Regions from separate parts of the Homo sapiens genome. Here regions 2 and 3 are each linked to region 1. Evidence: fine-mapped expression QTL. A gene starts in region 1. Each other region holds a variant in brackets. All regions are shown on one strand. Distances are between the middles of the regions. Region 1 holds the start of DNM3 (dynamin 3). Region 2 overlaps DNM3 (dynamin 3). Region 3 overlaps DNM3 (dynamin 3).

The links. PIP is the estimated chance that this variant, and not a neighbour inherited with it, causes the effect. A credible set is the group of variants that fine-mapping cannot tell apart.
Region 2: its variant is the best candidate, but not a certain one, in a credible set for the expression of DNM3 in whole blood (TOPMed, PIP 0.79).
Region 3: its variant is the best candidate, but not a certain one, in a credible set for the expression of DNM3 in whole blood (INTERVAL, PIP 0.75).

The regions. Positions count from the first base shown.
Region 1 is chr1:171,836,595-171,844,781 of GRCh38, forward strand. DNM3 (dynamin 3) reads left to right here and starts at 4,904. Exons shown (of 21, transcript NM_015569.5): 1 at 4,904-5,223. The coding sequence starts at 5,063. RefSeq lists a silencer at 4,719-4,948 and an enhancer at 5,149-5,328.
Region 2 is chr1:171,918,962-171,927,148 of GRCh38, forward strand. DNM3 (dynamin 3) reads left to right here. Exons shown (of 21, transcript NM_015569.5): 2 at 2,787-2,860. Among named protein-coding and RNA genes, the nearest start is that of DNM3-IT1, 59 kb to the left of the region's middle. The variant A/G (reference allele first, on the strand shown) is at 4,304.
Region 3 is chr1:172,404,773-172,412,959 of GRCh38, forward strand. It overlaps DNM3 (dynamin 3), which reads left to right. Exons shown (of 21, transcript NM_015569.5): 21 at 3,000-7,945. The coding sequence ends at 3,069. The region is part of intron 1 of LOC102724528 (a long non-coding RNA gene); the gene reads right to left. Among named protein-coding and RNA genes, the nearest start is that of C1orf105, 12 kb to the right of the region's middle. The variant G/A (reference allele first, on the strand shown) is at 3,350.

The DNA.
Region 1 (8,187 bases):
AAGGAGGCCTCACAATCATGGCAGAAGGCAAAAGCCATGTCTTACATGGCAGCCAACAAGAGAGAAATGAGAACCAAATGAAAGAGGTTTCCCCTTATAAAACCATCATATCTTGTGAGTCTTATTCACTACCACGAGAGCAGTATGGGGGAAACCATCCCCATGATTCAATTATCTCCCACTGTGTCTCTCCCACAACATACGGGAATTATGGGAGCTACAATTCAAGATTAGATTTGGGTGGGAACACAGCCATACCATATCACCCTTAAAGGTGAAAGTTTGTTTTTGTCAAAATTTTCCCTCTGCTTTTTCCCTTTAGGTTTTCTTTTGCTATTTCTTTTATCCATATTAGCTTATAAGAAAAGGTCTACATCACTGAAAGACCTTGAGTTGAGTGTTTTTGTGTGTGTTAGATTTCTCTTAATTCCGTGTCATCACAGTATTGATTCTAGAAATGGAAAGTAAAGAAGGAAAGCAATTGGCAAGAGTGTTTAGGATGGTTTCTTAAAGTAGGTGGGTGAAACTAATTTGAACTAAATTCTGGAGCATAGAGATGACAGGCATTGCTTCAGTGCACGTGAACTTTACATTTGTATAATGGCTATACATTTTTTGTCTAATGCATGGTAGCATTGTCTTCTACATTAGAATGCAAAATACTTAGGGCAAGGGCTAGTTCTCCTGATCCTTTGTACCTTACAGCATGTAGCAGAGTGCAGGATGTACTTATCAAGGCCCAGCTAAGCTTTCCATGACTCTCTCCTGACAGAGTTGTTACTCCTCGGGTTTCATCACGTTTCTTTAAGCAAACTCTATGTCTTGGTCAGCATGGGCTGCTGTAACAAAATACCAAGGACTGGGTAGCTTAAACAACAGATATTTATTTCTCATAGTTCTGGAAGCTGAGATGTTTAAGATCAAGGTACTCATTGATTCTGTTCCTGATGAGGACTCTCCTGCCTTGTAGATGGCCACCTTCCTGCTGTGTCCTCACATGATGAGGAGGGCAGTGGAGGGGGAAGAGAGAGACAGAGAGATGGGAGGGGTGGGGGGAGCCAGCCAGCATGAGAGCTCTCTGATGTCTCCTCTTACAAGGCCACTAATCCTATTGAATCAGGGTTTCCTCCTTATGACTTCATTTAACCTTAATTGCTAATATAGTTTGGCTGTGTCCTCACTCAAAATCTCATCTTGAATTGTAATCCCCATAATCCCCATGTGTCAAGGGTGGGACCAGGTGGAGGTGATTCAATCATGGAGGTGGTTTACTGCATGCTGTTCTCGTGATAGTGAGTGAGTTCTCATGAGATCTGATGGTTTTATAAGTGTCTGGCATTTCCCCTGCTTCCACTCACTCAGTCCTGCCACCCCATGAAAAGGTACCTTTCACCATGATTGTAAGCTTCCTGAGGAATGTGGAACTGTGAGTCTATTAAACTTCTTTCCTTTATAAATTACGCGGTCTCAGGTATTTCTTCATAGCGTTGTGAGAACGGACTAATACAATTACTTTCTCCAAATATAGCCACACTGGGGTTCAGGGTATCAACATATGAATTTGGGGGAGGCACAGTTCAGCCTATTGTACCCTGGAACATATTATGTGTGTTGTAACAATTTGTTTATGTCTGCTGCCAGTGGACTGTGGTCTTCTCACGTGCTATGCACTGTGCCGGACATTGAGAATCACAAAGATGGATCCTGCCCTCAAGGAGTTGTATTAATTTTCTATTGCTACTGTAACAAGTTACCACATACTTAGTGTTTTCAAACAACACAGATTTATTATCTTACAGTGCCGTGCATTAGAAGTCTGATGCAGGGTTGGTCATGGTGGCTCAAGCCTGTAATTCCAGCACTTTGGGAGGCCGAGGCAGATGGATCACTTGAGGTCAGGAGTTTGAGATCAGCCTGGCCAACATGGTGAAACCCCGTTTCTACTAAAAATACGAAACAAAAAAAAAATAGCTAGATGTGGTGGTGCACGCCTGTAGTCCCAGCTACTTGGGAGTCGGAGGTGAGAGAATTGCTTGAACCCAGGAGGCGGAGGTTGCAGTGAGCTGAGATTGTGCCATTGCACTCCAGCCTGGACGACAAAGCGAGACTGCATCTCAAAAAAAAAAAAAAAATTTTTTTTGGAGGCTCTGAGGGAGAATGTGTTTCCTGCCTTTTCCACTTTCTAGAGGCTGCCTGCATTTCTTGGCTCATGGTCCCCTTTCTCCATGCATCTCGGGGACCCTTCCCCAGTTATATCTCCCTCTGATGCAGATTGGAAATGTTCTCTGCTCTTAAGAATTCATGTGAGTAGAGTGCATCCACTTAGATAATCTAGAATAATCTTCCCATCCCAAGGTCCTTAATTATATCTACAAAGGCCCATTTGCCACTTCAGGAAACATTCACAGGTTCCAGGGATTAAAATGTGGACATCTTTGGGAAGGGCATTATAGTGAAAGAGAGGGACATGTAAATTAGTGACTTAATGCAATATGCCAAGGGCAAGAATGAAAATCTATTCAGGGTACATATATATATGTATATATGTGTATATATGAAAAGCATAGAGGAAAACGGTTGTTTGAGAAATGATGGTTGTAACTGAGGCACTGGCAGCAAGGATGGACAGAAAATGGCTTCTAGGAAGGTAGAATGGGTATTATTTGGGTACCAATTTGGTGTAGGGGATGAAGGAGAGAGAGGGAAAAATGAAGTGAGAATGACTTCCAGATTCTGGATTGGGATTGGGCAGGCTTGTCCCTGAGATAGGGAGCACACTATCTCTAGTGTGAGAATGTATTTATAGGATTCTTTGACTGCAAGTAAAAGAAATATGAGTTGAATTAGGTTAGGCAAAGAGGAGAATTTATTATAAGTTTATTGGCGGGGAGGTTGTACAAGGAACTGAGGACAGGATTACAGTTGGACATCAGACATGAACAAGATTGAGGATACAGGTACTATCCGGATCTTCCCTCTTCTTTCCCTGTGCTCCTCTCCTTGTGTCTTTTCACTTTTCTCTTTCTCTGAAGATGAGCACTTCCCTTCTACTGGTGAAATCTTACTAACCATAGTTGCCAATGTTATTCCTCACTTATAGTTCAGTCACTCAGACAAAGGCCAATCTCTCTCTCAATTGCATACTCCTGGGAAAAGGCTTTGATTGGTAAAGCTCAAGTCAGGTGCCCAATCTGGTGCACACAGCTATGGCCAGGGCTCAGTTTTTCTTCATGCCTTTCTATCTTCATGACTGCTCTGGCTACAACCATGCATTGGATGGAGTGTTTCTTAGAAAAGGTTTCCTGGGCAGACATTCTAATAGAGATCCACTTCAGTGGAGATGCATTCAGTTTTATTTGTCTTTTTCTGCTGCTTTAAAAAAAAGTTGAGATGTAATGTACAGTAAAATGCACATCACTTAAAAGTTTAGTTTGAGGAGTTTTGACAAATGTATGCCCACATCCCAGTCAAGACATGGGACATTTCCATCACTCCAGAAAGTTTCCTCATGCCTCCTACAGTCAATCTCCACTCCTCAAAGACAACCACAGTTCCGATTTCTATTACCATAGAATAGCTTTGCTGGTTGTAGAACTTCACATACATGAAATCAAACCAATATGGTCTTTGGCCTTTTTCATTCTACATAATGTATCTGAGATTGTTGCTATATCAAAAGTCTTTTTTGTGGCAGAGATTATTTCACTATATATATATACCACGTTTGTTTATTCATTCACCTGTTGATAGACATTTGGGTTGTTTTCAGGTTTTTTGACATTATGAACATTTTAATATGTCTTTTTAGAGTTAGAAGGAACTGTACATTAAATGCTGAGATTACAAAAGATGACTTCAGTTTTGAATAAATTGAGTCTGTAGTACTTGTAGGACACTCAGGTAGTATTCTGGGCTCCTCTTGGAGTACAGTCTAAGTTGCAGAAGAGAGACAGGGTCTAGCAATGTAAATTTCTGTAGTCGCCAGCCTTGATTCAGAGTTAAAGCTATGGGAAAGTCCTCAGGCAGAGGACAAACATTAGACAAGAAAATGCCCATATATGAAACCCTGCGAAGCATCAGTATTTGAGGAGCAGACTAAAAAGGAACCGTCTGTGGAGGCTAAGAGAAGCATGGCCATTTATCTTTGTGTCCCGATCATCAGGCACAGGACCCCACACACAGTCACTTCTCAATGTGCTAAATTTCACAGAATGCGTCCAGGGTACCTGGTTCTGGATAGATCCGGTAGAAGGAGATAGACCGGGAGGGCAAATGGCATGAGGAGTCTCACAGGCCAGAGTGATTAAAGGGGTGTATCGGGGCGGTAAACCCTACAGACTCTACCTGTGCTTATGCGGGGCTGGGGAGGACGAGTCATTACAGATGAAGAATTAAGTAAGGTCAGACCACTCAGGGCCTTAGATGGATGTCACATTGAAGAATTTAGACTCCAACAGGCCTGCCACCCTGGGAGGAGTCATCGCGGATTCTGGAGAAGGGCGTGACAGAGGAGATTTCCTTTCGGGAAGTGTAGTCTGGCAGCGGTGCCCCGGTGGTGGCGGCGGCGGTGCTGCTGTTGCTGGTGATCGTGTGGTGGTGTTAGCGGCGATAGTGCTTTCCACTGGGCTTTGGCTTGGTAGCCGCTGAAAGAGAACAACGCTGCCGCTGCTGCTGATTTCATGCCATTTCCTGACCCGGCGCTGTAACTTGGCCTCTGAGCCTTGGCCACAGAACGCAGAGGCCGTGGCATCTGGCCGCAGCTGGGCTGCAGTGCGTGCGCGCCTGGCCTGGTGGTCCGATGGGAAGCCCGGGGCGGGGCAGCCGCGGGGCGGGGGCGGGGCGTCGCGGAGATAGGCCACGCCCCTGCCCGCCCGCGCAGGCGCGCTGCGGGTCGTTAGCTGTCAGAGCCAAGCGGCGGGCTGGCGGCGGGCTCCGACGTCTGCGCCAGGACCTGGCTGGCTGAGCCCGGCGCAGCAGCAGCAGCCAGGGCAGCGCGGCCCCTACTCCCTGTCAGGTCGTAGAGGCGAGCAGGGACCAGCTGGTCGCCGGCCCCTCGGGCAAGATGGGGAACCGGGAGATGGAGGAGCTGATCCCGCTGGTGAACCGTCTGCAGGACGCGTTTTCGGCGCTGGGACAGAGCTGCCTGCTGGAGCTGCCGCAGATCGCCGTGGTGGGCGGCCAGAGCGCCGGCAAGAGCTCGGTGCTCGAGAACTTCGTGGGCAGGTAAGCGCGCAGGGCGCGGAGTAAGGATGCGGCAGTGGGGCGACCCCGCTGCGGGCCGTTGGAACGTGGACGGGCAGCGGGAGCCAGAGGGTGGATGGACCAGGCGCTGCGGTGGAATGGGGGGCAGAGTGGAATGGGGGGCAGAGTGGCGGTGTCCGTGGGGCGGGCGGGGTCCTCCAGCTCTGGGCATCCTCCGTCCCCTGCCACCCCCCGCCTGGTGGCCCTCCTGCCTGCCTTTCATCGTGCGATACAAAGCCATTTCCTCCCTGTCCTCCAGTCGGGGAGTCGGGGGAGGGGTCCGCCCCGGGCTCGACCCCCACCCCCTCGGTGCGCGCCAGCCCCGGGCAGCCTCCCTGCGTAGCGCGCCGAAAGCTTCCCAGTGCCCCTCTCCTGTTTTCCCAGCTCAACACCCCCCTCCTTTTCCTGTCGCCCTCCGTGAGGCTCCCTGTGAGGCTGTGGGGCTTTATCCCCCGAGCCCCCTCCCTTAGGTGGAGATGCTTTCCTTCTCGCCAGGGTTCTCGTTCCTCTCAGCTGTCTACTGTTGCCTGCCTCTAGCTGGGGAGGCGGGGTGCGAGGAGAAAGACGTCGTTTGTTGTGGTGAAGCTTTATCCAGAGACGCTTCCCCACCATTCTCCTCCCGGAGAGTCGAAGAATAAAAGGTGGTGTGTTTGCGTGTGCACCTATTCACAGCTTCAGGCAATTGTGAGAGAGCCCGAGGCACAGACTTGGCAGGGGGTGGACGTGGACTTATGTTGTCCAGGTGCCATGTCATTCCTGCATCATCTCGGAACTGACCAGCATCTTTCTCGCACTCTCTCTGCGCCCCCTCCCCCAGCATCATCTTCCGTTCTCTAAGCTCCTATTTGTCTTGCTAGCCTTCAAGACAACATTCTGAATCTAAATTGTAGCTGTGGTTTTCCTCATGACTCTTAATACAGAAACAGCTAAGGAATTAATTTTCGAATTAGGAATCAGCATTTCTTCCACTGAGCAATTCATGAGGGATTAAGTTACCTTAATGGCCTTGCCTGAAGAGTGCAGACATTTGCTAAGAAAAGCCCATTTAAAAGCATTATGAAAACTGAAATCTGTTTCCTAGTAATAGAAAACCAGGTAGAAATGTACAGTATCCAAGAAAAAATGCTGGCGAGATTGTACTTTATTCTTTTTATTTGGCTCATTCGTGACTTGGGATGCAGAAGGTTCCTGTTTCTGTTCCTTTTTTCTTTTTTTGTTAGTGCTTGGTGATGTGTAGAATTTAGAGCTGAATATTCCCACATTTCCTTTGGAAATGTTAGTGTTCATAAAGTACATATTCCTTTCTCTCAAATGATATTCCATCTCTCAGATGATATTTTTTTTCCTGTATGAACTAGAAAGATAAGAAGCCTAACAAAGTAAAATTGCTGACAATTGGCTTGTATCCTTGAGTAATTCACTTAATCACTACACCTCATTTTTATATTTTTTTTGATTAATGAACAAAGTGAAGGTAAAGCATTTTGCCTACGTCATCTTAGACTTTTGGTGAAGTGATGGATTTCAAACATATAACAGTTACTTTCTTTGATTTGTTGCCAATGAAATTTACGAGATATAAAGTGGCATCCAAAGAGTGAGTTTTGGTAACATATTTTTGGCTTTCCAAAGCCAGGGCATTTTTGTCATGACACCTTAAGAGTTATTTAACTATTTTTGTTTTTTAAACAAATACTTAAAGATTAAAACTGTAAGTATTTCAAATGAAATTACCATATTTTTATGCATCTCCCATATATTTACTTGGATGAGCCTATATTGTATGCAAGTGCATTGTTTGTGGTCAGAGCTTTTGAACTTAATGTCAGTTGTATGCACATACCACAATTCTACATTCTAGGTTTTGAAATTCTAACATTCTTCCTAATGTTATAATAAAATTGTACACATCTCCCCACACTAGCTATGTTCTTTTGGAATAATTTGAAAAAAGAAATGTAGAAGAGTAAAATATTTAAGTTTGAATATTTTTCAAGATGGAATAAAAAATAGGGACAAGTATAAAAATCAGAGCACGTACCAGAATGCATTAGTAATTTGTTGTACTTTAAAAAGTTTTACCACTAATTGACTGTTAGAACGCCAAATCAAAGAAAAGGATGACCATAGAGGAAAAAGGTCATTTAATTCATATGTAAAGTCTTAATTATATGTAGAGATAACACCTGCCTAGCAGAGCTTACATATTAAGGAGAAAATTTAATTAGGAAGGTCATTTGACTTTAATAAAGATTTCGGTCATTGAATTATTGAGGAATCTAATTTCTAATTATAAACCAACCTTAGGGAAAATGGAGTTTTCTATTTTGATAAGTTATTCAGCCTAGGTGGAAAAAATTGTATCCATTTTCTACTGTAACATCTTAGCATTTTCTTGTCATTATCCAGGAATTTTGCAATAAAAACAGTTTCTTTCCTAAGGATGCAACTTTCCTCTTTTACACGAAACAGTTTTCATTTTAAGACTCGATCTAATGTGCAGTTATTGAATGCAGCCATAAAAACCAAGGGTCATCACTTGTGTAAATTCATTGTGTTTGCTCTTGACTCAAGCTTCTTCTCTACAAAATAATGATGCATTTTCTCAACAATCCTCATTTAGTGGACTAACTGTATCTTCTCTCAGTTTGTTTATATTGAGTTTTTTTGGACACCAATGAATGAATTCGGATGTGAATATGTTTACTTCATTTAGCGGTTGCTGTAAAAGCTGATTTTTGGGTGACAGGTTTGAGATTGTTATGAATAAAATGAGTCATGAATGAACCACTTGTTTGTGATTTTCTTGCTGAAGTGATGAACTTGCATATTAATGTGATATAGCATGAGTAACCAGATTGTTCTTTTGGTGGTGCAGGATGAGATATATGCTGGCAATGAGAGGCAGCTTAAGATCTAATGAATAGAATTTGAGACCTATAATCT
Region 2 (8,187 bases), 82 kb after region 1:
TTCTTCTTTCTTCTCTCTGTCCTTTCTTCTCTGCCTTTTTTCTTGAAGAAAATATTTTATTGACTTGTTAAATGGCATTATTCAGGCCATTCATCATTTTTCCTTGGCATTTTATACATCCTAAAATTTCACTCATGGTCCTCACGGCTCAAACAGATGCCCTCCAGCTCTTTTTATTTTTATATCCTGACTTAAATTTTTTTTATTATTATACTTTAAAGTTCTGGGATACATATGCAGAACATGCAGGTTTGTTACATAGGTATACACATGCCATGGTGGTTTGCTGCACCCATCAACCCGTCATCTACATTAGGTATTTCTCCTAATGCTGTCCCTCTCCTGGCCCCCCACCCTCTGACAGGCCCTGGTGTGTGATGTTCCCCTCCCTGTGTTCATGTGTTCTCATTGTTCAACTCCCACTTATGAGTGAGAACATGCGGTGTTTGGTTTTCTGTTCTTGTGTTAGTTTCCTGAGAATGATGGTTTCCAGCTTTATCCATGTCCCTGCAAAGGACATAAACTCATCCTTTTTTATGGCTGAACAGTATTCCATGGTGCCCTCCAGCTCTTTACTCTGGAGTTTTGCTTTTTTCCCTCCCTGCATTCATTTTGATTCTCAAATTAACCTGTTCCTTTTTGGTTAAAAATAAAACAAACAAAACAAAGTAGATGCTTTGTTTATTTTGATTAAATTTTAAATGATTGTTGAAGCCATCTAAACTAGCAGTTATTCTAATATAGCGCATGAAGAATATTAAAAGTGTATTTAGTTATATGTATTTAAATATATTCAAAACATCATTATAAAGAGAGTATTGTTCTTTCTCTTTTCTGAACTCCAATGTAGTTTATCTTCCCTTCTTTAATGGTTTTCATGACTATGTTTTGTTCCCATTAGGTTCCGAACTCCTGGTGTCTACCCAGCATGAGTCCATGCCCACAGCATCTCCCTAGCACTTCTTAATTTCTCAGTGAATTTTTTTTGATGAATAAATAATGGTATTTCAGTCGCATTTTCAAAAGCACATACAAATTTGTAATTTCACTATTTTCTATTGTAGTCATATACGTTGACATTCTAAATGAACTTTGGTCCTTGAAGTCAATGAGAAAAGTCATTAACTTAAGGTTGTTCAGTACTATTTCCTCTGTCAGAACACACAGTAGCACTTGCCAAATAAATTAGTTGTAGTAGGAGAAATTTGGCTTGATTTTATCTTTTTGACTCTCCATTCCAAACTATCAGTGCAGCTAAACACTTGGGTTTTGGAGCATTCTCACTGTCCTTTGCCTATTTTATAAGCTGCTGTTCATTGAAATCCCATCTGTGTTGAAGCTCTGTTCTGCCAAATTTCCTACAAAACTCATAGCACGCCACATGCCATTATTGCCCACTGAATTGTTGAGTAACATATCCTGACTTGAGGCCAGTGGTTTTCAAACCTTGGTGAGCATCAGAAACATCTGGGAGCTTGTTAAGAGTACAAATGCTGCATGCCTTCCCCTGAATATGATGAATCTGTAGCTTCAGGATGAGTCCTGGGTGTCTGTGGTTATAATACTTTCTGATGGGCCTGGAACCACATTTTGAGAAAAACTGCCACTGAGTGAAAAGTTTATTTTGAATGGAATTCTGTGATGATTCCTCTAAAAGTTGTGAGACATTCTAAATGTGTTTAAAAACTGTGCTATAGGTATGTTTTTGAATTCTTCGACATTGCAGAATCAGCAATAATTTATGTGGCATTGCAGATGTAATATTATGTAGTACTATCTTTGCTGCAGTTTTATTAGCTTAGTGTTTATTAATATGTCATTTAAAATATGATCTTTATCAAAACGTCCATTTATCAGGAATAAGAACAAATGGAATGAGAACAAACAAAACTCAATTTGCAATGTTTGTTTTCTGCTGTTAATTTCTATAGACAAAATACTTATTTCTACTTGATCCCACATTTTATGTGTCCTTTTTTTTAGACAAGAGTCTCACTCTGTTGCACAGGCTGGAGTGCAGTGGTGCGACATTGGCTCACTGCAACTCTGCCTCCCAGGCTCAAGCGATCCTCCCACCTCAGCCTTCTGGGTAGCTGGGACTAGAGGCCCACGCCACCACGTCTGGCTGGCTAGTTTTTGTAGGGTTTTTTTTTTTCTTTTTTTTTTTGTAGCGCTGGGTTTTTGCTATGTTGTCCAGGCTGGTCTTGAACTCCTGGACTCAAGCAATTCACCAGCCTCAGCCTCCCATAGTGCTGGGATTACAGGTGTGGAACACTGTGCCCGGCCTTGTTTCCTTTTATTGGAGAAAAGTGTCAGTATATTTAGAGGATACAATCTAATGTGCCTTTAGTAGTGGTATATGATGGTGCTAATATTGATCTTGAGGCCAAAGAGCGTACTGGGTTTTTTAATTATCAAAAAGAGTTTAAGAATTAATTTCAGTATCACATATTTTCTTTAATGCTGATTCTCTGAAAATCAAAATTCATTGATAATACACAGAAACTAAGGGCAAACTTTTATCAGTTTCAGCTAGATGAATGAATGACATATTCCAGTGAAGTCATTATGATAATGTACATGGATTTCTGTGCAATATAAGGCCCTCCTCCTCCTTTTTTTTAAATTTGAAAATGCTTCTTTTATTAAGATGGGCCTATCATTGTTTGGATAAGCGATACATTGAAAGGTTGGGAATTAGGAGAATTGCTGTGGAACTTGGTTTATGAATGTACAGGTGATAAGAATTCCTTCATGCCTTAATCTGTATTTCTTACTTTTTTTAGGGACTTTCTCCCTCGAGGGTCGGGCATTGTAACAAGACGACCTCTTGTGCTGCAGCTTGTTACTTCTAAAGCAGGTAATGAATGAAGATGTTTACCGCATGGATGGGCACATCCTGTGGCCCCTTTTGCCTTCATAGGTGTGGGATTGTACAAATAGAAACGTTTTTGTGATCGCCCCACTGTGGGCAGCTGCCCACATTTCTCTCCAGAATGCTGCCTTCTTCATTGCTCTTTTCATTCCTTTGATTACATTAAAGGGGATATTTTCATAGATTTTTTTAAAATACCTACTTAAAAAAATGTTTTATTGCTCATTGTAATCCATCTATATAATTTTACAGTACAGCACAACCACTAATACTCCTTTGGTATGCTTTGTGTGTGTGTGTGTGTGTGTGTGTGTGTGTGCGTATGTGTGCATGCACATGCACTTGGGGATTAACTCATAAAATTCAACAACCATATAATATCTGTATGGATGTGTATGTGCGTATCTATATTTACACTGTGCTATGCTTCCTTCTCTCTCTTACATCATGATAATTTGATAGGTAAATGATGCTTTGTTTTTATTTTCATTTTATTTCAGCAACTGATGATGTTGAATTTTTTTTTCATGTTTATTTGCCATTTGTATTTCTTCTCTCGTGAATTGGCCATTTTTCTTTTTCCCCATTTCTTTTTGGGGATTTTACTAGTTTTCCTATCAATTTCTTTGAATGCTTAAGACTGAAGCACCTCATAAAAATCATCTATCATAAATTGCAAATATTTTTAATAGCTTGTTAAAGATACAGTTTACATACCATACAACTTGACCAATAGAAGTTAACAGTTGAATAGATTTTAGTCTTTTCACAGATATGTGCAACCATCTCCACAATCAGCTTTAGAACTGTTTGATCACTCCCAAAAGAAAGCCTGTATGTTTCTGCTGTCACCTCTTTTCATAACACCTTTCCCCACCACTCCAGCCTAGGCACTACTAACCTATGTTCTGTCTCTATGGATTTCCCTATTCTGGACATGTCATATGAATAGAATCATTTAATATGTGGTCTTTTGTAATAGGCTTTTCTTGCTTGGCATAATCTTTTCAAGGTTCATCCATGTCGTAGCATGTATTAGAACTTCATTTCTTTTTATGGCCTAATAATATTCCATTGTCTGGATAGATCACATTTTGTTTGTCCATTCGTTAACTGAGGAGCATTTGAGTTGTTTCCACCCTTTGGTTATTATGAATGATGTTGCTATAAACATTCATGTACATGTTTCTGTGTGGACATGTGTTTTCATTTCTCTTAGAAATATACCTGAGTATAATTGCTGGGCCATGTAGTAACTCTCTGTTTAATTGTTTAAGGAACTGACAGACTGTTTTCAAAGCAGCTGCCCCATTTTACATTCCTACCGGCAGTGTATGAGGGTTACAGTTTTTCTATATCCTTGCTAACCCTTGTGGGTAAGAAGTGATATCTCACTGTGGTTTTGACTTGCGTTTTCCTAATGACTAA[A/G]GATACTGAGCATCTTTTCATGTGCTTAATGATCATTTGTATATATTATTTAGATAAATGTGTATTCATTTCCTTTGCCTAGTTTTAAATTTGGTTATTTGCCTTTGTATTACTGAATTGTAACAGATATATATTAAATACAAGTCCCATATCAGATATTTGATTTGCATTTTTTTTTTCTATTTTATAGGCCCTTTTCATTTTCTTGGCAGTGTCCTTTGAAGCACAAGATTTTTTATTTTGGTGAAGTCCAATTTATCTACTTTTTTCTTTCATTTCTCGTTATTTTTGTATATATCTAAGAATCCTTTGCCAAAACCAAGGTTATAAAACTTTATTCTATGTTTTCTTCTAGGAGATTTATAGCTTTGATCTTCCACTTAGGTCTTTGATCCATTTTTTAAAATTACTAATTTTTAAATTTTAAATTTCATTTTAGATTTGGGGATAGGTACAGGTTTGTTATATTGCATAATGTGTAATGCTGAGGTTTGGGTTTCTAGTGAAACTATCACCCAAATAGTAAACGCAGTCCCCAATAGGTAGAATTTCAACCTTCACCCCTCTTCCACTCTTCCCCCTTTTGGAGTTCTTTGCATCTGTTTTTCCCATCTTTATGTCCATGTTTACCCACTGTTTAGTTCACACTTGTAAGTGTGAATGTGTGGTATTTTATTTCCTATTTCTGTTATTTCTCTTAGAATAATGGCCTCCAGCTCAGTCCATGTTGCTGTGAAGGACATGATTTCATTCTTTTTTATGGCTGCATAGTATTCTATGGTGTATGTGTCCCCTGTTTTCTTTATCCAGTCAACTGTTGGTGGGCTTAGGTTGATTCCATGATTTTGCTGTTGTGAATAGTGCTGCAGTAAACATACAAGTATAGGTATCTTTTTGAAATAATAATTTCTTTTCCTTTGGGTAGCTACCCAGTAGTGGGATTGCTGGGTCAAATGGTAGTTCTATTTTTAGTCCTTTGAGAATTCTCTATACTGTTTTCCATAGGGGTTAAACTAATTTACATTCCCACCAATAGTTTATAAGTGTTCCCTTTTCTCTGCAGCCCTGCCATCATGGGTTATTTTTGACTTTTTAACAATAGCTGTATCAGTCTATTTTCACACTGCTATGAAGAACTGCCCAAGACTGGGTATTTTATAAAAGAAAGAGGTTTCATTGACTCACAGTTCAGCATGGCTGGGGAGGTCTCAGGAAACTTACAATCATGGTGGAAGGCAAAGGGGAAGCAAGGCACCTTCTTCACAAGGTGGCAGGAAGGAGAAGAGCCAAGCAAAGGGGAGGAGCCCCTTAAAACTATCAGATCTCATGAGAACTCACTATCATGAGAACAGCATGGGGGAAACTGCCCCCCATTAATTACCTCCACCTGGTCTCTCCCTTGACATGTGGGGATTGTGAAGATTATGGGGATTACAATTCAAGATGAGATTTGGGTGGGGACACAAAGCCTAAACATATCAATAGCCATTCTGACTGGTATGAGATGATATCTTATTGTAGTTTTGATCCGTATTTCTCTGATGATTAATGATGTTGAGCATTGTTTTCTTATGTTTGTTGGCTGCTTTTATGTATTCTTTTGAGAATTGTCTGTTCCTGTCCTTTGCCCACTTTTTTTTTTCCCCCTTTTTGAGATGGAGTCTCGCTCTTCTTGCCTAGGCTGGAGTGCAGTGGCGGGATCTCGGCTCGCTGCAACCTCTGCCTCCTGGGTTCAAGTGATTCTCTTGCCTCAGCCTCCTGAGTAGCTGGGATTACAGGTGCCCACCACCACGCCCGGCTAATTTTTTGTATTTTTAGTAGAGACGGGGTTTCACCATGTTGGCCAGGCTGGTCTTGAACTCCTGACCTCAGGTGATTCACCCACCTCGGTCTCCCAAAGTGTTGGGATTACAGGCATGAGCCACCATGCCCGGCCCTTTGCCCACTTTTTTTAAATTCTTTTTATTTTATTTTTATTTTTGAGACAGAGTCTTGCTCTGTCACCCAGGCTGGAGTGCAGTGGTGCGATCTCAGCTCACTGCAAGCTCCGCCTCTTGGGTTCATGCCATTCTCCTGCCTCAGCCTCCCGAGTAGCTGGGATTGCAGGTACCCACCACCACACCTGGCTAATTTTTTTTTGTATTTTTAGTAGAGATGGGGTTTCATCATGTTAGCCAGGATGGTCTCAATCTCCTGACCTCGTGATCTGCCTGCCTTGGCCTCCCAAAGTGCTGGGATTACAGGTGTGAGCCACCGTGCCTGGCCTTTGCCCACTTTTTAATGGGGTTATTTGTTTTTTTCTTGTTGATTTGTTTAAAGTTCTTATAGATTCTGGATATTAGTCCTTTATTGGATGCATAGTTTGCAAAAATTTTCTCTCATCCTGTAGATCGTCTGTTTACTCTGTTGGTAGTTTCTTTTGCAGTGCATAATGTCTTTAGTTTAGTTAAGTCCCGTTTGTCTATTTCTGTTTTTGTTGCATTGCTTTTGGGGTCTTAGTGAGAAGTCCTTTTCCTAGGCTGATGTCTGGAGAAGTTTTTCCTAGGTTTTCTTCTAGAATTTTTATAGTTTGAGGACTTACATTTAAGTCTTTAATCCATCATGAGTTAATTTTTGTATATGGTGAGAGATAGGGGTCCAGTTATATTCTTCTGCATATGGTTAGGCAGTTTTCCCAACACCATTTATTGAGTAGGATGTTCTTTCCTCATTGTTTTTGTTGACTTTGTGGAAGACGTGTTGGTTGAAAATATGTGGCTTTACTTCTGAGTTCTCTGTTCTTTTACATTGATCTATGTGTCTATTTTCATACAAGTACCATGCTGTTTTGGTTACTATAGCCTTGTATAGTTTAGTATAGAGTAGTTTGAAGTTGGGTAATGTGATGCCTCTGGCTTTGTTCTTTTTGCTTAGGATTGCTTTGGCTATTTGGGCTCTCTTCTGGTTCCCTATTAATTTTAGTATTGTTTTTTCTAATTCTGTGAAAGATGATGTTGGTAATTTGATAGGAATTGCATAGAATCTGTAGATTGCTTTGGGCAGTATAGTCATTTTAACCATATTGATTCTTCCAATCCATGAGCATGGGATGTTTTTCCATTTGTTTGTGCTTTGATCCATTTTGAGTTAATAATTTTATGCACTAAGTGTCAAACTTTATTTTCTGCATGTGGATATCCACTAGTCCCAGCACAATTTGTTGAAAAGACTATTCTTTCCTCACTGTAGGATCTTGGCCCCTTTGTCAAAAATCTGTTGACCAGAGAAATACAGGTTTATTTTGGGACTCTCAGTTCTTTTCGACTGATATTTATGTCTATCCTTGGGCCAATAGCATACTCTCTTAATTACCCTTGCTTTGTGGTAAGTTTCAAATTGAGAATTGCAAGTCCTTCTACTTTATTTTTTTTCAGGATTGTTTTGGCTATCCTGGGTCTCTTGAAGTTCAATATGAATTTCAGAATGAGCTTGTTTTATCCCGGGAATGTAAGATTGGTTTAACATCTGAAAATCATATCAGTGGAATGAAAAAAAATCACAGAATTACCTCAATAGATTCAGAAAAAGTATTTGACAAAATCTAACATGCATTCATGATAAAACTCTTAGTAAATAAAGGGGAAGGAACTTCCTCAACCTGGTAAAGGGCTTATATGAAAACCACATAGCTACCATCATACTTAATGGTGACAGACTGGATGCTTTCTGTCTAAAATCAGTAATAATACAAGGATGTCTGCTCTTGTCACTCTTATTCAACATTGTACGGTAGGTTCTAACCAGGACAGCTGGGGAAAGAAAGAAATAAAAGGCATCTACCCTGGAAAGGAAGATGTAAAATTATCTCTATTTGAAGATGATGTGATCACATGTATAGAAAAACT
Region 3 (8,187 bases), 570 kb after region 1:
CAAAATTTTGCCCCACTTTTCCACTTAAAATGAAGTACTATAATAAAGCTACTTTCATATTTGTTTTATTCCACTCATCTTCCATTCTGAATAGATGCTGAGCTCTTTAAAGTCATGTAGCATGAAGCAGTCCACATATTAGATGCTCAATAAATAATCTATGCAATATATAACTGGAAGTCTTGACATAGATCATCTAGTCTGATTGTACAATTTGGCAACTGGAGCTAGAATCCACATTTTCTAACTTCTGATCCAGGACTCTTTCTATGTAAACATAGTATCTCAAATATAAGCTTCTGATAAATGCCTTAAAAGTGTAGCATCCTTGGCCTCGCTAGACCTACTCACCTTGATCTAGCCTAAACTCTAGCCTGGCTAAATATCTTGTTTAGGCACTTTTCAGTCATTTCTTCATTTGTCCATTATTCAACAAATACTTAACCACTGCTTTCTAATCACATTGTACCAAATGCTGAATACACATAATAAATGCAAAATATGTGGTTTCTTTTCTCAAGGAATTTTGAATCTATTTGGGGGACACTGGTAATAATCTAGTAAATAAATACATAATCACAAGTAGGGTTACGTGCTACGAGAGACACAAACATGAAGTCATAGGGGAAGGCAGAGGAAGTCAGGAAAACTATGGGATGGTCCAGAAGGACTGAGGAATAACAGTTAAGCCAAGAACAAAAGGATCAAGAGAAGTCAGTTTCATTCCTTTCTCTCTTGGCTACAAGCCTTGATCCAAGCTATCACATATTCATGAAACGATTTCCAATCCATCATGCCATGCTGTATCCTACTTCTCACTGAATTTGTAGTCTAAAATCAACTTTTTATTTAATGAAATCACCTAATTAATTCCATTATCAAAACTTCTGGTAGAATTTCCCTCCTTAAAGCTCAAATTCTGGCCAGTTCTCTCCTCCCACCAGCCAACTGGTTAATTGCTAAGAATACATTTCCATAGGTTACATGATTATTTGACAAACTCCCTGAGGGCAGGGGGCTTATTATTTGGTATTTATTCCAAATATCTACTAAAGAACTGAGCAGTTAGATACTTTAGAGTCACCAAGGATCTCAATCCTACATGTCACTTTAGCTACTTTTTTTTTTTTGCCATGGCCATGATTTACTCACAAATATCCTTGTATTTATAAGACCAATGAATATCACAAGCATTCATTAGTTATTTCTTGATTCTAGGAGGAACTTTCATTCATTCAGTTATCAAACATTCAGTGACTGAATGACAAGCAGTGAGCTAGATACCACAGTTACATGAAGATGATTAAGAGACAGCTCATTTCTCATCAGTGAAGATAACATATAAGCCTAATTAGAGTTCAGTGTGATGACTAATAATAGAGATTTGTTGAGATGCTATACAAACAACTGTATCAGGAGAGGGGAAGGCAGGTCAGGGAAGGCTTCACTGAAGTAAGTCTTAAATGATTAGTTAGTAGTCTCAGAAGATGACCAAAATGACATTGAGAATGTAATTGCATGTAACACCATGCTAAACACTGTATGAAACAAGTTAAGTGGGTGTGACCTGCGCCCTTCAGAAACTTCCTATCAAAGAAGAAAATTATGCAGATTCAAGATTCAGGACATAAGTTAAACATATATGGCCATTTTAAATGAAAATAAGGCTGGGTACCATGGCTCACACCTGTAATTCCAGTGCTTTGTACCTCCCCAAAGAAAGATTTCCTTTGAAGCCTCTTACACATTTTTCAAGTGCATGAGGTAAAAGGAATTCTACTAATATCTATGAGTTTGTGCCTAAATAGTTAATATTTTCACCATTAATCAACAATATCTCTCCTGCTTTGATTTTTCCTTGATCGTGTAATTTAATTTTATAGTTCCATGATTTTTCAACAACTATTTTTTTCAAAACTATTTTTCAAAACTATTTTTCATAATAGTTTTCTTAAATTTTTCTAACTTCACTTCTTCATACCTGAGAAAGGACATTCAATTTGATCAATATAGAGTTTCTAATACAGAAGAAAAATTTATGACTATAATTCCAGAAGGAGTCTTTCTGAAAAAATCAGTTGCAGAGTTTTATCAAAAAGAAACATTTCAATTTGTAGACTTTGTCAAATTTGGGGGGGTAAAAAAATGACTACCCAAGATACCATATATGAAGTCAAGTACACAAATACACTAAAAAAACTTATTAATATATTTAGGAAATAAATGTAGAAGCTTGAGGAATAAATAAGTAATAAATAATATTACTTGGTAATGTTGAGACTCTCAAATACAGTAATATTTCATTATCTAAAGTACGTTTGCTTAGTAAACTCAGCTACCAGAAACATCATTACCAACTAGAAAGTGAGTAATACTACTAATACCAATACTAAAGTCTTTAAGACCCAAAATAGGAACTAGAGCTCCTGCAATTTAAACAGGCACTCAACACTGAGCCTATTTACACTTGCTACAGAGAACTCTAAAGACTTGCTTTTCTGATTTTTAGTGCTCTGTAAATTACAAGCATAATATAGAACAAATTGGAGAAAGTCAAAAAGGCAATGAGAAGTGATAATAATATCCTGAAAGAAAAAGGAAAATTATATGTGAGAAATAAAAATTCAAAAGCCATCATTGTCTGAAACAGTATACCTTATTAGTTCCTGAGTTCATTCTATGTAATTATTATATTCTATTGGCTAAGATATGTGCAGTACGTTTCAGATGGCTTTCAAATAGTTTCATATTTCTTATTAGTATTGGAAGGAATGACTTCAGTTTTGAGAAAGATTTGCATATGAAAAAAGACGTAATTTTCATTAAAACTACTAGATAAATGAAAGGTGACAATGTTAAAATCATTACAGATCATAACCACTTCTGCTGGCCTGTATGTGCATGAGCATGTGTGTAATGGCTCTTTCTCAGTGTCCTTGGAACAATGTTCTGCTAGATATTCTACTTGTTTCTTTACCTTTCTCTTTTTCTCTTTCTAGCCGGAGACCACCCCCATCACCAACTCGTCCCACTATAATCCGCCCACTAGAATCCTCCCTGTTAGACTAAACGAAGTGTCTGGCATGGCAATTAATCACTAATGAATTATGCGAAAGCAACATATTTGATAACCGTTGCAGTAAATCATGAGTAGTCGCATGTGTGGACATCAGTAGGCAAGTAACCAGTTTTACTAATGCATTCATCGCTCATCTTCATTGCTCATGGTATGTCAAACCTTTGGGGTTTGACTCAGAAACTGCTAACCTTTTAGAGGCTTTATATGTTGTACTGACCAAGGTAGGTTTGTATAGCAGCCCTATACTTTGGGGATCATTTGCCTACCATG[G/A]CATATATTTGAAATTGCTTTGGACAAGTTTTCTAGGCTATCTACCAGGTAGCTCATTAAACGTAATTCTTCAGATATGAGATAGTGGGCTTAGACCTAAGCCATACATATTTCTTTTCCCACATTCTGTTTAGGATGACAGTAATTCTGTTGTCTACCATTAATGCTACTACCTACTCCATAATTGCCTATTTAGCTCCTCTTTTCTTCCTTTTTATTTCATAAGACTGCTAGGAAGTGATTTTTTAAAATTAGGACTCCTTAAGAATAAACTTTTCCAGAAGCACGAGGTAGTTTGCAAAGGAAAAGTCTGCACTGTTTGCTCTAAAGAGCTTCTCCTCATTCCAATGTGTTTTGCTTCATGCTAGAAGCATATGCAACAGTGAATAAAAGCTTCTTTTTTTGTTAATCAGTCAATAAATTTGGCTAATTAGTTTCAGAGTTCAAGGAAGAAGCAAAATATCACATCTCTAGAAGTGTTGGGAAAAATATAATTTCTTTCTTTACTTATATTCACCTCATGGTAGGTTATATTGAAGGCTGACATGGAGAATGTTTACTTTTCTATTTGGCATAGCTAACTACACTTTGATACTAACTCCAGTTTTACTATTATTATTTTGGTTGGAAAAAAAATTCACTCTTTACGTGCTAATTTGTAATCTTGTTTTGTAAGAATTTATCCTACCCTTGAAACAGGCTCAGTGTAACTGTATATCCATTCTAGGCTTTCTTAATAAATCTTGAGGCTATGGGATAATCACATTTAAAGAATGGTTCCTGAAATGAAGTCAGTAGAAATGGCATGGGATAAGAGCAGAGCTCACACTTTTACAGTTGCAGTATTTCAAAGTCCCTATCCAGGTCACTCCAGAAAAGGGTATTGAAACGTTGAAATCTAAAGCAAATTTGCAATTTCTTAAGATTTCTAAAATTTACCAGAACAGTTTAGCCTGGGGGTTAATAGTTAAGTCTTGAGGCTAAGTTTTGGACTACCAAGGACCAGATGATTCACATGTAGGAAACAGCCAGAAGCCAACTGGAATTTTGTGTGCTAACTGTTCCCAGACAGCAGAGCAAGTATTCACTGAGTAGGGGTGTCCCATGACACTATTTCATATTCTACAGAAGTAAATCAGGTTTCACCAACTGAAATGTCTCCCTTTGAAAGTAGCAAACATGATTTGTATGTTAACTTAACTTTAATTTCCTGTGTAGTTTACACCCAGAGCAGATACTCATAAAGTATAAAGTAAAAACTTTTAACCATTATTAAACAGAGAACTTGCCATGTTGAGTGCCATTGTATTGAACTTATTCTAAAGGCTTATGCTAACCCATTTATAATTGGTAAAAATCAGAAAATACAAGATTTACATAAAGGTCATTTCAACTTTTAAGGTTACCAGTGATTGTATAAAAACATCACAATCCTAAATCCTCTCGTATCTCACCCCAAACCCCAAACTGGGGGAAAAAAAGTTAACTCTTTGTGAATGGAACCAATGTGCAAGATACATACTGCATTTTTAAAATAGTGTCTCAGCTAAATGGAAAACTGTTAAGCAAACATCCATAGTAAAACAAATAATCTTCAGTGAGATCTTTTTATAAAACTTCTTGTTTTTAGGATTCCCTTTGCTTCTTCCTTTGAATTCTCTAAAATAGGCAGCTAACGGATTATATACTTCAGGGTTTGGCTTTGTGCTAAATGTGGTTTTGTGTTTTGCTGTATTTCAAAATTTTCCTTCTGTTAAAGGAAAATATTGTGAATAACCACTGGTGTGTTCTTAGATCAGCACAAACCATGTCAAAAAAAATTGGAGATTTTTTTCCAATTTTCCTTCCACTGATCTTAGGCAGTAATAAACAATGGCATTTGTCATCTTTGGCACTTGCTTTTAGATTATAGTCCCACAGTTGCACTGCCCCAATTGTCTACCTTTGTGGGTACATTTTTGTTCTTTACTCCTAAGTTATTTCTCATAGAACCCAGCCTACTCTAGAATTTCAGCAGTGACATTGGAGAATATTTTTAATTTGCTGCAGTACTATGTCATATTATTAGTATGAATCTCATTTCCCAAAGGGTTTGTATTCTGCTAAAAGGAGATGCCAATGTTGAATGAAGTCTGAAACTCTAGTATGTGCATAGTTTGACGTGCAGCATGCACACCAGGCCTTAAGATGGGAATGTAGCTTAATGATTTTCTGTTTCCCATACCATTTCTAATCTTTTGTGTAATTTTCTCTTAACTGATTGCTCTGATATTGTAAACACAATAGATGTAGCTCTATCATGTCTAGCATAATTTAAAAAATCAGTGTTTTTAGGATTTGGGAAAATAAACTGTAAATGTTTATTTGATAGGTAAATATAGTTTTATTGTCACATGCTAAATATTGCATGCATATTGACTAATTGGAATAACCATTTACTCAATTATGGACAGCTTATTGAAATAGTATTGATTTAGAAAAAGTATATTGCATTTCTAAAAAACATCTACCAAGGTTACTCGTCTGAATATTGCTTTTAGCCGTGTTTTATAACATAGACGAGCAGTAGGGTCTGTTTATTAGCAAATTTCCTATTTGTTCCAATACAAACTCACTTTATTCTAAAGTATATTAATGAAACCAGTTCCTGTGATGTAACTGTAAGCCTTCTCGACTTAGACTTAAAAAGTGGTCACATAGATTAATTTTGTGACTTTTTAGTATAGACTGTAGCCATAATTCTCAAATATGAAATGGGACCTAATACCAGTATGTGATAAATGTTGATGTTTTCTGTGTACAAACACATTTTCTATGCATGTGTCTCTGTGTATATGGCATATACCTAGTAAGTATGTTTCTGTAAGTATGTGTATTTTATGTCCATTTGAGTAGGTAGGTAGGTTTTAAAAATACTAGTTAAAATGCCACAAGCATGAGTGTGATTGTATGTGCACTGTGTGTATATATATAAATATATGTATATGTATGGTTGTAAATATCTATGTATACATGTACTTAGTATGTGTGGTATCAGGATATTTTTTAAACTGTGATAATACAACAGATAGCTTTGAATGATCTGCCATAACATGTGGTAACAATAGTTCATTTCTCATAACATATATGAGGTATACAAAATTTTCTAACTCCAGATTGTAGTCATTTTGAGAGGTACAAAGCTCATAATTACCATGACAACATGGTAATGTCCATAGACATTTGTATCTGAATCCACAAGAAGATCTGAATCTAAGAAGGAATTACCTTTGACAATATTTTTCGGTAAGAAGTAAAACCTCTGGAGACCTATCTTTAAGATCTCTAATTGGAATTATAAATTATTTTTGGATTGCTGAGCTGAATCTTAAAAAGCCAAGTTGATATACATAGTCATTTTTCCTCTATGGTAGAAGTAAAAAAAAAAAAAAAGGACATAGCAACATTAAAGTAGTGGATTTTTCTGAGTAAATTTGCTGAAAATATAAGAGAGAAGCTATCTAATACCTTGGAGGTAGGTCATCCACTTTTTCAGGTAAACATTTTTCATTTGGCAAATGGCATAATTATTTGAAAGTGACAGGAATCTCCTCAGAATGAAGAATAAAGCCTACTAGGTCTCTAACTGTTGAACTCATGAAAGAAGATAGTGTATGAGACTTAAGCCATGAGTTTTGTATCATTTCAATTAGAAGACTACTAGCTGTGAGCTCAGAGTTTAATGTAAATGAATCTAGATGATTTTGAAGAAATGATTATTCGTTCACCAGATCACTCATTGTACATTCTAAAAAGCTCAAATGAGTCTTCTAGATACTCTTACTCATCCTGTCTGGTTGCTATGTTTAAAATTATGTGGTGCTGTGTAGGTGAAACTTTAAGAATATTTTTGAAGCATATGTAATATATGCACTGCTATTTGTGTGTGTGTGTGTGTCTTTGTATATATGTAAGAATGTGTGTATGTGTGAGAGCAAGAGAGAGGAAACTCAAAGAGGAGTGTTTGTCTTAAGACCTGTTCATACTGGTATATTGGTGAGACTTCTCACTTCTGGTTGGAGGTTTCACATATGGCTCAACTCAAGTCATTAATCTCTTTTTAATTTTTACTCTTGAATTCCTTAAACTTCGCTCATTATGAAATGTTTTAAAATTATGACAAAAATTACTCTGTCTAACCACTTGCCTTGTCTGCTACCAGTTTGTTAAAAATTATTCCCCCCAACCAGTAATTCCACCAGTACTACTTGATTTGTGTTATATTTCCTATGTACATGTACAGCCTTTGTTTTGCTTGCTTGTCTATTTTTACTTTCCCTTTTTTGGGTCAAATTTTTCTTTTGCTTTGTTTGAAGAAGGAATATACAGAAGTAAAATCTTGTCTTCTCTGCTGATTCTTTAATTAATATGAGCCGGATACTTTCCACTGTCTTCTTGGCACTTTCAGGATTTCTTAATGCTGATATATGGACTCTTAGAATGGAATTTTTGAAGAAAAATCTCAAAGCCTGTATCGTTCTTGAAGGTCACATGTACCTATTGTGAAAATGTGAAGCTGTATTTCTGAAGCTGAAATAAATTATAACATTTGAAGGACCCCTTTTCCTCATTCTTGTATATATTTGAGTCATGTCTATGCCTTTCAGTAATACCTGAGACTTCTAAATATTTATAGCTCTTTTGATTAAATTGTCCCAGAGTTACCAAAGTAAAGAATGATAGCATTTTCCATTTCTGTCATTAATTTGGAGAAAGATGGGATTTTTAAAGGGAACAAATTGGATAAATCAAAGGCAGGAGAGTGGGAGACATTGTGTTTCTGATTTGATGTCATTATT